Homo sapiens: one gene and its partner. The protein of the gene in region 2 interacts with the protein of the main gene of each other region in a pairwise test. Each region holds a gene or a part of one and is shown on either strand. Other genes may lie near its edges.

Region 1 (7,027 bases), about 130 Mb from region 2:
TAAAAAATCACAAGTGAGGCTGGGCACAAAGGCTCACGCCTGTAACTCCAGCACTTTGGGAGGCCAAGGTGGGCGGATCACCTGAGGTCAGAGGTTCAAGACCAGCCTGGACAACATAGTGAAACCCTGTCTCTACTAAAAATACAAAAATCAGCCAGGCTTGGTGGCGCAGCACCTGTAATCCCAGCTACTTGGGAGGCTGAAGCACGAGAATTGCTGGAACCTGGGAGGCGGAGGTTGTGGTGAGCTGAGATTGCGCCACTGCACTCCAGCCTGGGTGACAGAGCGAAACTCCATATCAAAAAAAAAAAAAAAAAAATCCCAAGCGAATCAAGGGTAGACCTCAACAGAGTCAGAGCTGAAAGGAGCACAATGTATTTATATTAGAGACAGATTCTTTGATACCAAAGTTGAATTGAGAGAACAAACAGACTGAGAAAATGTGGAGTGAGATCTTTGCCTCCAAGTTGGGTTGGTGCTACAGCAGGGGTCGCCAACCTCTGGCTGTGGACCGGTACCAGTCCGTGACCTGTTAGCACAGCAGGAGGTAAGCAACAGGCTAGGGAGCATTTCAGCCTTGACCTCCGCCTCCTGTCGGATCAGTGGTGGTATTAGACTCTCACAGGAGCGCGAACCCTATTGTGAACTGCGCATGTGAGGGATCTAGGTTGCATGCTCCTTCTGAGAATTTAATGCCTGATGATCTGAGGTAGAACAGTTTCATCCCAAAACCATCATCCCCCAATCCGTGAAAAATTGTATTCCGTGAAACTGGTCCCTGGTGCCAAAAGGTTGGAGACCACTGTGCTAGACAGCTGGGCAAGGGTTAAGAAAGTTGATGCTTTTACACAAAAAGGCAAATATCATATGTTCTCACTCATATGTGGGAGCTTAAAATGTAGATCTCATAATGATACAGGGTAGATTGGTGGTTGCCAAAGGCCAGGAAGGGGAGGGGGGGATGGGAGATGAAGGGAAAAAAAAGGATATAAATATATTTATTACTACTGAACTGTATACTTACAAATCGTAAAGATGGTTAAAAAAAAAGAAAAAAGAAAGAAAAATCAGAATAAGGGCTATAGACTAAATAATAGTTCTTTATATTAATTGCCCTGTTTTTTAAAATAAATTATACTGTGGTCATGTATGAGAATATTAATTTTAGGAAATACACATAAGTCTGTAACTTTTTCTTAGGGTTCAGAAAAGAGAGAGGGAAATAAAACAAATATAGTAAAACGTTAACATTTGGAGGATCTGGATAAAAAGTATATGAGAATTTTTTGTACTATTATAACTTTCCTGCATGTCTTTAATTATGATTAAAAAAACTTAAATATAAGAAAAAAAGAAAAGAAAGAAAGTTGATGCTTTTAGTAAACTATGGACCCTCTCCCCAGAAGATTGTACCTAAGCTGGTGCAAAGAATGCTTCACTTACCATCTCAAGGGATTTAAAATCCACCAAAGACCGTTCTTGAGCCGAGACTAAGAGCAAGTGAAGCTTAGGAAAGTGGCCCAGAGAAGCCAATCAGGGAGCTAGCATCTGAGGAAGGAAGATATTTTGTTTGGGAAAATTCCAGAGGGAAAAAAAGTAAGGAAGCCATGGTTTCAGGGTTAAGATGGATTTGAGGATAGTGGTTTTGAACAGGTGAAGTGAATGGATCGGGGGACGGAAAGACAGAGACTTGATTGCAAATACCCAGCTATGAGAGTGACAGGCCACACCTTGAAATGTGGTACAAATCATCATCATCAGGAAATCCAGGAATGAGAGATTCATACAGGGAAGAGGTAGCATAGAATAAAAAATGCTAGGCCAGGAATGGTGGCTCACACCTGTAATCTCAGAAATTTGGGACGCTAAGGCAGGTGGATCACTTGAGGCCAGGAGTTCGAGACCAGCCTGACCAACATGGCGAAGCCCTGTCTCTACTAAAAATACAAAAATTATCTGGGCATGGTGGCAGTAGTCACAGCTACTCAGGAGGCTGAGGAAAGAGAATCACTTGAACCTGGGAGGTGGAGGTTGCAGTGAACCGAGATTGAGCCACTCCACTCCTGCCTGGGTGACAGAACAAGACTCTGTCTCAAAAAAAAAAAAAAAAAAAAAAAAAAGAATAAAACATTCCCAGTCTGGAGTCAGACCTAGGGTCAGACTTTCACCCTACTCGTGTTTAGCTCACCATTGAGAAGGCTGGCGTCTCTAGGCCTCTCATGTTAAAGAAGAGAGCTCATGGGGTGGTGTGAGAATTAGCTTAGCTAACACAAGTAATGTGTCTTACGTGAAACCTAGCATCCGGTAGCCCTAAGCAAATGGTAGCACATTACATGAGCAGATTTGGAGGATTCCATTCATTACCCCATGGTCTTACCAACAACACCAACTGAGGAGACAGGCCGCGCTGATGCTGTTTTCCACGATGCTCCGGAGGGAGTTGACCACTTATTTGCTTTCCTTTCAGCGAAGAAAGCATATTGCAGGGCTCTAGCCTGCCCTGATTGCAAAAGATATAGAAACAGCTCCTCCTCCTTCTTGATGCCCACTTCATAGGGATACTGCACAGCAGCCTGGACTGCACGGACACAAGCCTCCTGTGCAAGACACCCAGGGTGCTGCCTCCGCATCTTCAAGAGGGCCTCACTAAAAATGCTGTCCATGTTGGGCAAGCTCTGAATTGGCTTGTTGCAGAGTCTACGGGATTCTAGAGGTTGATCTGAAAGGAATAAGAAGGATCAGAGCTTTGGAAATGTTACTTGTACAAAGGGAATGTGAATATATAGTAATAACAATAACCTGTTCAAATTCAAAGCACAAACTAAAAGCTATTCATTAAGACATTTAATGTACACTAAACATATGTACACTAACATCTCTGATATCTTTGCAACACAGTCCTACAAGATAGAATTTAGTAGACTCAAAGCAATTTTAGGTTACCTAGTTTAGGCATAAAAGTTGTATTTTCTTTTTAATCCAAGACCAAGACAATTTTATAATAGATTAATGATTAATTAATTAAATTAATCAATAGATTAATATTTAATCTGTAATTAATATTAATATATTAAATATTAATGAGTCTAAGGAAAACGGTTCTGAGTTAATATTTTATTTATTAATTTTTAAAAATTATTTCAGCTTTTATTTTAGATTGAGGGCATACATGTGCAGGTTTGTTACATGGGTATATCACACGATGCTGAGGCTTGGGATATGAATAATCCTGCCACCCCAGTAGTGAGCATAGTACCCAGAAGTTGGTTTTTCAACCTTTGCCATCCTCCCTCCCTTCCCCTGTAGTAGAGACTCTAGTGTCTATTATTGAGTGAATATTTTAGATTCAAAATAACCTTAACTCCGTTCCTAATAGTAACAAAAACTTTAAAATACCTAGAAAAGGAGACAGCGTGGTATTGATGCAAGGATAGGTATATATATCAATGGAAGAGAATCGAGAGTTCACAAATAAACTCTTACAATTATAGCCAATGATTTTCAACATAGGTGTCCAAACAATTCAATGGAAGAAAGGAGAGTCTCTTTTTTTCACATTCAGAATTTTTATTTTAAAACAAAGAATCGGAGCAACATTAACAACAGAAAATCCATATGGAAATATTCACAATCTGCTCAGTGAGAAATGGGAAAACAACTTTCCTGCCTTACTGCCAACCTACTGTTTGAGGAGCCAGAAGTTGACGTGAGGTTGGAAGGTCACCTTTTCCAGCTAAATCCCACTGAATAGGTGTGTGCATTTTTATTCAAAGTCTCCGCAACCAGAGGGAACAGAACTGAGAACAAAAATACTGTTATTGGCAAGGGTTTGGCTAAAGGGTCTGGCTAAAGGGTCTGAGATGTGCAAGCACCAAGAAGGGATAGGGAGATTGAGCAACACATGAAAAGAGGGGCTGTAGGAACAAGCACCGAGAAAGTAAGTCAACTATAACCTACTTCCACCCAGAGCAAAGTGACTGTGCACATAAATCCACACTCTCAAGTGTGGGCTACACTGCACGCTGACTCATACGATCTCAAACGTGGTTTATTGGAAAGATTCTAGTCCCCTAAGGGCACTCAGCGAAGGACCACAGTGACATGGTAACAGATGCACACAAGCATACTGTGACCCTAAAGCAACAACACACTTTAGATAATAATCGTTCAGAAAAAAATCCTCAAAAGGAGAATCTTTCAACAAATCGTAGTGGGATAATTGGATATCCACATGCCAAAAACAATAAAAAAAAAAAAAAATTTAGGTCCTTACCTAGCACCATATATAAAAATCAACTGAAAACAGATCACAAATCTAAATTGAAGAACTAATACTATAAAAATTCCTAGAAGAAAATATAAAAAAATTTTCAGGACCTTGGGGTTAGGCAAAGTATTCTTAGATACAACACCAAAAGCATGACATACAAAAGAAACAAGAAATCAGACTTCATAAAAATTAAAGACTTTTGTTCTTCAAAGGATATCAATAAGAAAATGAAATGACAGCCAGGTGCAGTGGCTCACGCCTGTAATCCTAGCACTTTGGGAGGCCGAGGCGGGTGGATTGTCTGAGCTCAGGAGTTCGAGACCAGCCTGGGCAACATGGTGAAACCCCATCTCTACTAAAATACAAAAAATTAGCTGGACATGGTGGTGTGCACCTGTAATCCCAGCTACTCGGGAAGCTGAGGCAGGAAAATTGCTAGAACCTGAGAGGTGGAGGTTGCAGTGAGCCGAGATCATGCCATTGCACTCCAGCCAGGGTGACAGAGCGAGACTCTGTCTCCAAAAAAAACAGAAAAAAAAAAATGAAATGACAAGCCATAAACTAGAAGAAAATACTTGTGTGGTAGTCAGAATAACACCCCCCCCACCAAATGTTCATGTCTTAATTCCTAGAATCTGTGAATGTATAACCTCACATGGTAAAGAGATGTATAGGTGAGAGTAAGATTAAAGACCTTGGCTGGGCACAGTAGCCCACGCCTGTAATTCCAGTACTCTGGGAGGCCGAGGTGGGCAGATTGCTTTGAGCTCAGGAGGTTGAGACCAACCTGGGCAACGTGGTGAAACTCTGTCTCTACCAAAAATACAAAAAATTAGCCGGGCATGGTGGCGCACCCCTGTGGTCCCAGCTACTCTGGAGGCTGAAGTGGGAGAATCGTTTGAGCCTGAGAGGTTGCAGTGAGTGAGCCAAGGTCGTGCCACTGCACTGCAGCCTGGGTGACAGAGTGAGACCCCATTTCAAAAAAAAAAAAAAATTAGACATTGAGATGGGGATATTACCCTGTGTTATCTGATTGAGTGCAATCTAATCATATGAGTCCTTAAAAGCAGAGAATCTTTCCTGACTGTGGTGAGGGGGATTCAACAAGGAAGAAGGGTTAGAGAAATGCAACATGCAAAGGACTCGACCTGTTGGCACTGATGTAGCTTTGAATATGAGGAAAGGAGACCAAGAACTAAAGAATGCAGTGTTCTCTAGAAGCTGGGATTGACCTTTAAGGTTTACAAGGTCGCAAGTTTGCAAGCAAGAACATGGGGACTCTGATCCCACAATGCAAAGTACTGAGTTCTGCCAACAACCCAAATAAGCAGGAAACAGTTTCTCCCCTAGAGCCTCCAGAAAAGAGTGCACCAGCTGACACCTGGATTTTAGCCCAGGGAGACCTCTACAATACTTCTAGTCTACACAACTGTAAGAAAATAATTTCGGATGATTTAAACTGCTAAGCTTGTGGTAATTTTTTAGCACAGCAATAGAAAATATAATTGGCACATCAAATATCAAATAAAGAACTTGTTTCCAGAATATGTAACAAACTCTTATGACTCAATAATTAGGTAAACAATGTAATTTCTTAAACGGGCAAAAACTTGAGCAGTTATTTCATCAAGGAGCATATGTGAATGGCTAATATGCACACAAAAAGATGCTCGACATCATTAGTCATTAAGGAAATGCAAATTAAAACCGCAACAAATGTGGTAGACAGACTCTAAGTAATGGGCTGTCATTTCTAGATTAGGTTACAAAAAGACTCTGGCTTCAGTCTTGCTCATACTTTCTTGCCCTCTCAAATTGGTCACTCTGATGGAAGCCAGCTGCCCTGTTGTGAGCCACCCTATGGTGAAGCCCACGTGGCAAAGAACTGAGGGAGGCTTTCAGCCCACAGTCAGTGAGGAACTGAGGCCCTCAGTACAACAGCCCATACGGAACTGAATCCTACCAACAACCGCTTGAGTGAGTTTGAAAGCAGATTCTCCCCCTGACCCCTAATCAACCTGAGATGACTACAGCCACAGACAACACCTTGATTGTAGCTTTGTTTGAAATCTGAAAGCCAGAGGACCTAGGACACTTGGATTCTGGACCCACAGAAATTGTGGAATAAATGTTTGATTTTAAGCCACTAAGTTTTGGGGTCATTTGTTATGCAGTTAGACTTACTAGAATGACTATAATAAAAAGCCATCACTACTGAATGTTGGTGATGATGTAGAGAAACCAGAAGCCTCATACGTTGCTTCTGAGAGTGTAAAACAGCACATTGCTTTGGAAAACAGTTTAGTTGTTTCTTAAAAAGATAAACATAAACTGATTGTTCAACCCAGCAATTTCACTCCCAGGAATCTACACAAGAGAAATGAAAGCATATGCCATAAAGAAAACTTGTCTACAAATATTCATGGCAGCATTATTTATAATAGCAAAATCTGGAAACAATCCAAACATCCATCAGCTGTTGAATGACTAAAGAAATTTGATAGAGCCATGCAATAGAATATTATTCAGCAATAAAAAGGATCAAACTGTTGATACATGCTACAATACAGATACAGATGAGCCTCAGAAACATTATGCTAACTAAAAGAAGCCAGATGCAAAACATTACATATTGTATGATGCCATTTAGATCCAAGGTCCAAAAAATGCAAATCTATAGAGACAGAAAGATCAGTGGTTGCCTAGGGCTGGGGATGTGAGTAGGAGTTAGTGTTAATGGGCATGAAGAAACTTTTT
Region 2 (7,027 bases):
AACAGTTTTCCTTTAATATTACAATACTACTTATTTATTGGTTTGGAAACTAGGTCACCCTACATGATGTTTTGATTTTTCTCAAAGGCATCATGAGTACTCTGCTTATTCTTTCATTCTTGTATTTTTAGCCTTCTAGTTGAGTTAGGGACCATTTTATCAGAAATCATTTTAGCACTGTAATAAGAAAAGCTCTGTTAAGGGTAGATTATATACCATAATGATTTTCAGACTTCTTTTTATAAAAAAGGTATCTGGAGACTCTGAACAGGCACATGCATACTCAGGGGGAAGGGAACAAAACATGGAGGAGTCTGCCAAAGCACAAAACTTCCTTCTGGTCCTCACTGCCTTCAAATAAATACAACTATTTAAAAGAAAAAAAATATCTCACACTGTGATTTAAAAAAAAAAATCAGTATCTTCCATTTCCTGGAGAGTCTTTCCAGGAACCTGTGGCAGGGTCGGAGATCAGTCGTCTGTCTTCCGGGCTAGCCTACAGAAAGTCCAGTTGTGCTCCACTGTGTTTTCATTGGCCCGCTCACTCATGTGATGCACCCGGGTGTTGCGGATCGTGAAACCTTGTTTTGTAATGTATTCCATCAGGTGGACCCTAAGAGAAACTTCCTGGTGATAATCACAGGGTCCAAAAGTAAAGGAAACCTGGCAGTCTCTGGTGTCCATCATGTGCTTATTCCACTTGGTAAAATAATTTGAGATGCCTTCTAGTAAGGAATGGACCTTAGTGGTGATGGTTAGTTGCGTTATGATGACAGCCACTGGGTTGGAGTACTTAGAAAGCTTCCGAGTACTAGACAGCTCCACAACTTCTTCAAAAGTATCCATGGGATACAAAGGCTTAGGATCATTGAGACACTGAATCAAGGGCTCAATCTGGTAAAAATCTGCTTCTTTCCGAAGCAGATCAAATTCCTTAAAATCCAACGGTAAGGTCAATTCTGAAGTTCTTAAGAAGTTGAGGACATATCGGAAAAGAGGTCCATCTCGATCAATAAAGTAATTGCCTTGAGGGTCTCGAGCTGTGGGGAAGTCCCCCCCAAACATAGCTCCAAGCATGGAATCCGGGTAACGCGTCAATGTGGTGAGAGACGTTGTATACAAGTGTCCACCTACATTTAATGTGACTGGGTCAGTCATCTGAAATTTGTAAAGAAATGATCAGTCATCTGAAATTTTTAAATACTAACTTTGACAAATTAAGAAAGTAAGTGATACTGAGCAAAGCCCAAGATTCTTTCAGGCTATAATGTATTTAGTAATCCTCTAATGCAAAATGACTTTACTACCAGCAATAAACCCACCCAGATGAAGTGATCTAACATTTGCTTTCAATAGAAAAAAAAAGGAGAAATCCAATTTCTCTTTAAAGACTTATGCTAAGAATACAGGGCATTGACTTCCAGAGCCAAATCATTTCAGGCCCATTATCTATAGAGTTTTCAGGCCAGAATATATGTGGGAAGGGAAAAGCCACGCTAAAATACACTTATTTTTTTCTGATTTTTTTTTAAGGCTTGCATTTTTCTGAATTTAATTTAACATTAGATAGAATTAAAATGATCTGATAATATAGACATTTACTTTCAATATTTCTTTGGTTTCTCCCCCTCAAACAAAAGGAACAAACTATGAAATTTGTTTTTAAAATAAAAATTTGGGCCAGGTACAGTGGCTCATACCTGTAATCCTAGCACTTTGGGAGGCCGGGGCAGGCAGATTGCCTGAGCTCAGGAGTTCAAGACCAGCCTGGGCAACATGGCAAGACCCCATCTCTATTAAAAATACAAAAAAAAAAAAAAAAAAATTCACTGGGTGTGGTGGCCTGAGTAGTCCTAGCTACTTGGGAGGCTGAGGTATGAGAATCACTTGAACCCAGGAGGCACAGGCTGCAGTGAGCCAAGATCATGCCACTTCACTTCAGCCTGGGCGACACAGAGAGATTTTGTCTCCAAAAAAAAAAAATTATTTAAATTAAATTAAAAACTGTGCAGACCTAATCTTGGTAACTTTTTCATGGAAGTGATACTTTCAAATACTAAGTTAAAATATACAGTTTAGTCAATACAACCAAGCCAGAAAAGCATCACATACCCAAAAGCTTACAGCAGCCATAAAATTTCATAATCTGATAGTGTATTCACTTTTGTAACATTAATGCTGCAATCTGGCCTTTAATTCTGAGAAGCAAGCTTCTCTTAAAAAACATACCTTCAGTTTTAGAAATACTATTTACGAAAAAAATAGGCCAGGTGTGGTGGCTCACACCTGTAATCCCAGCACTTTGGGAGGCCAAGGAGGGTGGATCACTTGAGCCCAGGAGTTGCTGACCAGCCTGGGCAACATGACAAAACTCCATCTCTACAAAAAATACAAAATATTAGCCACACATGTTGGTGCCCACCTATCGTCTCAGCTACTCAGGAGGCTGAGGTGGGACAATCACCTGAGCTTGGAAAGTCATGAGCCGAGATCACGCCATTGCACTCCAGCCTAGGGAAAAGAGCAAGACCCTGTCTCGAAAAAAAAAAAAAAAAAGGAAGAAAGAAAAAAGAAAGGCAGACAGAGACTTCAGGTATAGGCAAGTAAAATATACCTTACACCAAAGGAATAGAAAAATAGGGAGACATATGCACACACAAAAAATGCAAGTGGGGAGAAGAGGCACTTTCTCAACCATTAATCTCCCAAACCACAACAAAATATCCTCCAAACTCACTAGATCCCTTTGTAGTCACTATTCATGAAGAAAGAGTCTTCAGAGCAACACACTTGAAAAAATAAAAAATCACGTTACCTCTCCAGTGATTATAAAAAGTATTTGGAAAATCCATTTTGAGTTTGATTCCATTAAAACACCAAACAAAGGCAGAGGATCGTTTGAGGTCAGGAGTTCGAGATCAGCCTGGCCAACATGGTGAAACCCCGTGTCTACTAAAAATACAAAAATTAGCCAGATGTGGTGGTGCACGCTGATAATCCCAGCTACTCAGGAGGCTGAGGCAGGAGAATCTCTTGAACCTAGGAGGTGGAGGTTGCAGTGAGCCAAGATCGCGCCACTGCACTCCAGCCTGGGCAAGAAGGCGAGACTCCACATAAAAAAAATTAAATAAAAATTTAAAAAACACCACACAAGACAAAAACGCCTCCAAAATACATCTAAACTAAGTAAAAGGGGGAAGAGAGGTTACACAAATTCACAATTTTCTTTTCTTATAAGATATACCTAAAAATACATAAGGATAAAAAGACACACAAAAATAATTCCCCAGCCTTCAAAATGCATCTCCAAGAAGCACTCACCATATAGCCCCAGTCTCCATTATCCATCTGCTCCAGTGATGCGTCTTCAAGAGCCCAGGTTTCAGGGAAACTTCAAGAGGAGAAAAACAGACATATGATAGCATATATAACTAGGAAAATAGAGAAGAAAGTCTTTTTCCACCCAACAGAGGAGGCCAAACACCAGAAAAACTACTCGTCCTTGCTCAGCTGAAACCTACTACAGGGCAAAGATCTGGGGAAGAAAGCATTCCCCTAGGGCCTTCTACATGTCCTGTATTCTTACCATAGAGAACCCATCTGGAACTAAGAGACTGAAGATTTTCAGAGAAAGAACTATACTGTACTTAAGAGAAGGAGGAAGAGTCTAGGAAGTAACCCAGTCATTCAAATTCTACCTCTCTTCTTAGAACATCAATTTTTAGAATTTATATAAGAGAATATTATGATTAACTCTACAACCTTATCCTGGTACAAACCTATAATGGTCCTCACCAAAAAGGTCATTTAAGAAAAAGGGACAGGCTGGGCGCAGTGGCTCATGCCTATAATCCCAGCACTTTGGGAGGCTGAGGCAGGAGGATCACCAGGTCAGGAGTTCAAGACCAGACTGCCCAACATAGTGAAACCCCATCTCTACTAAAAATACAAAAAATTAGCTGGGCGTGGTGGTGGGCACCTGTAATCCTAGCTATTCAGGAGGCTGAGGCAGGAGCATCACTTGAACCCGAGAGGCGGAGGTTGCAGTGAGCCGAGACTGTGCCACTGCACACCAGCCCCTGCAACAGTGCGAGACTCCATCTCAAAAAAAAAAAAAAAAAGAAAAGAAAAGAAAAAGGGAGAAGGGAAAACTCCTTTTCATCAGCATTTCAGCTATACAAGCCAATCACCTGAGTAAAAACATCAAAAATCATAAACCTCCCAGGATACCAGCATCCCTTTCCAAGAGAAATACATCAGAATGGTATTTATCTTACAATATAAAAAAAAAAGATGATGCTTTTAAATAATGATGTATTTCTCTTTGTACAATTAAAACAAATAGAAAGTGATTTAAATGCCGAAGTGTTAAAGAGCACAATTTGGGGCAAAAAGAACCTTACCGATATAGATGAGAGTCAATCAGCCAGCACTCATGGAGAGCCAGCCTTAAGACACTGAGAAATGCTCAGATACTAATGATGCCAATGTGAATTTATTTTTATCTACAATTCAAAAGCATTTAAACAAACAGTTTCCCAGCTACTGAACTGCCTTAGTCAGTTCCCTCTCACACACTTCAATCCCAAATCAACCTGTAAAGCAAACTGCAGAGCAAATTTCTAAAGCTCTGGCAAGACATGGTAAGAAACATGGACTTATTGGTATTCATCCAGGAAAAGCACTGGCTTTTTTACGTGGTCCTTTAACAGATTCACTTTTCCCACTTTTAGAGGAATCTGGCACAGAATTCCCAGAACAAGCCCTAGCTACAGAAGATCACAAAGGCTCTTTCTCAAAAGGTCACTCAGGCATGTAGAGAACATTTGCATAGCACAGCATGGGCTGAAATCAGAGCCTGAAGCATCTATTTCTCTACCTTGCAAATCCTTCAAAGCACACAACTAAAATGTGGACCAGACTATGGGGCAGTCAGTTTTTATTCTTTACACTCAGCAGTTGGATATAGACAGGCCTCCACATGCTATGGGGTGAGAAATGGAACAAATGTCAAATTCAAGACTGTTATGACAGTCTTTCATTCCTCTGACTTGCTTCACAAATAGTATCCGAAGTAAACAGGACCAAGAAATGGGCTTTGCCAATTTGTCTTGCCAGGATCTGATTCAGTTACTGATAACAACAGATTAGTAACTGAGCAATTTAAAAGGCCACTCATCCAAAAGTTCTGGTAAGATGCTCATCTTTGGCATTTTCCCATCACCCAAAGTATTCATTCTGACAGCCTCAATAATCATTCATTCAGCCAACAATTATTGTGGGTCACCTATGGAGTGGAGGGGGTGCCTATGTGCAATGCGGACACACAGAAAGAGGAAAAAGACAATCTTTGCCCTCATGGAGCTTTCCATCTATAATGGAAGGCAACATGCAATGACTGAAGTACAGAACAGAATTCAAAGTGCTGTATAACAGATGGACCAGCAGAGGCCCGTGAGAGGGGAAAAGCAAGATTTCAAATGGGAAATAGAGGACTTCTGGGAAGAGCCCATTCAGTTGAATCCTTGAAAGAAAATTCGGACAACCTGAGAAGGGATTCTAGAAGGAAGAAACAATTTAATAGACAGGGGCATGAAAGACTTTTTTTCCCCCTACAACATTCCTGATACCAGTAGGCCGAGCAGGGATTACTATCCTCATCTTAAAGATGCAAAACAGAGAAACAAGGCAGATTAAGTGACTAGCTGAGGGCGCCACAGCTGGGAAGTAACTAGATAAGAACTTGCATGTTCTGACTCTTAGTCTAGATTTTTCCATAAATCCCCTCCTAGGGTAGAAATTGAAAGAACAGAATCCAAGAGACAAGAAATTGAAAAAGCTTAACTTTAAACTCTCTATAGCCATCTATTAACCCTATCCATCCAGTAGGGTTTTATTTACAAATTTTACAGTAACTCAGCCTAACTAAACAGTCATAATGGGTTTGTAAAAATTCTCCTGAGGCCCCCCCACCAAAAAAAGGCAGGAACCCATTCAACTAGTGTGAATAACGGTTGCTGTCCTGTCTGTAGTGACATAAAGAACTCCAATCCGTGAATATCCAAATGATTAAATGAGAAACAGAAGATCAAAGACAAGGAAAAAAGCAGACATCAATGTTGCAGCCGTTAACGAAAAGTCTGTCCACTATTAACCCTTTTTTTCTTTTTTACTGCTAAATCAAAACAAGGTAACTTCTTGAGCAGTTATCTAAAAAAAAAAAAAAAAAAATTAGACGATGTCCCTGAATCTGTTCCACAGCAAAAGCAAAAGTTCCGGTACAAAGATGTAATGAAAGCTCACGCTTAATAATTCAGGAAAGCAATTATGGGAATCTACAGCCCATGTTTCTTAAAAACCACCCAAAAGCCTTCCTATACTTGTGTATAAGATACATCAAAATAAATTGAAGCAAAGTTACTATTAGTCACTTCCAATAACAATGAGTAAACTGTCTAAAGAAATCAAATTGTGCATTAAAGAGTTCAAAGGGAAAAAACAGTATTGATTAGTTTAAATTTTATCTCTACCTGCTTCTAAATATCTTCTGTGGAGATGCTTAAATACAGCAAGAAACAAACAAACAAAAAAAAAGCATGAAAAATTCCCTGTTATCCAATAGCTGGATAATGATCGGCTTCTGAATTCTGAATTGACGACCATTAGGAACATCTCTGAAACGATGCAGATGAATGAAATACAATCCCAAAGAATTTCCAGAATAGTTTCAATCTCTTCTACTGAATCATTTTCCAGAGCTACTAACAATTAGAAAATGATTCATTTGCTTTTCATCTTCTCTCCCTTCTGGCACAGTCTCCAGTGGAGGGCTTAATGAGAAGTTAAATGACCACAAGACAGGCAGCAGAAGGAAGATCTTGAAATGGGTATCAAATAGGCCTATTTTACTTGATGAAAGCAAAGAAATATCTAATATTTCAGAAAATCTACCAGGAATGGTAACAATAAAAAATTTTTCCTTTATAGTGACTTTCCTTACTAAAACTAAAGATGGTTTTGAAAGACA

The links. Proteins that work in one complex are often made in the same cells at the same time.
Region 1: the proteins of KCTD6 (region 2) and EHHADH interact in binary tests that used the Homo sapiens proteins (3 or more experiments, as listed by UniProt).

Annotation. Positions count from the first base shown.
Region 1 is NC_000003.12:185,202,039-185,209,065, forward strand, and holds part of EHHADH (peroxisomal bifunctional enzyme), read right to left. Parts: intron 2,720-7,027; coding exon 2,378-2,719; intron 1-2,377. UniProt on the Homo sapiens protein: Peroxisomal trifunctional enzyme possessing 2-enoyl-CoA hydratase, 3-hydroxyacyl-CoA dehydrogenase, and delta 3, delta 2-enoyl-CoA isomerase activities. Catalyzes two of the four reactions of the long chain fatty acids peroxisomal beta-oxidation pathway.
Region 2 is NC_000003.12:58,495,077-58,502,103, reverse strand, and holds part of KCTD6 (BTB/POZ domain-containing protein KCTD6), read right to left. Parts: intron 3,740-7,027; exon of another isoform or gene 3,392-3,739; 5' UTR 3,349-3,391; coding exon 3,322-3,348; intron 1,159-3,321; coding exon 472-1,158; 3' UTR 1-471. UniProt on the Homo sapiens protein: Probable substrate-specific adapter of a BCR (BTB-CUL3-RBX1) E3 ubiquitin-protein ligase complex mediating the ubiquitination and subsequent proteasomal degradation of target proteins.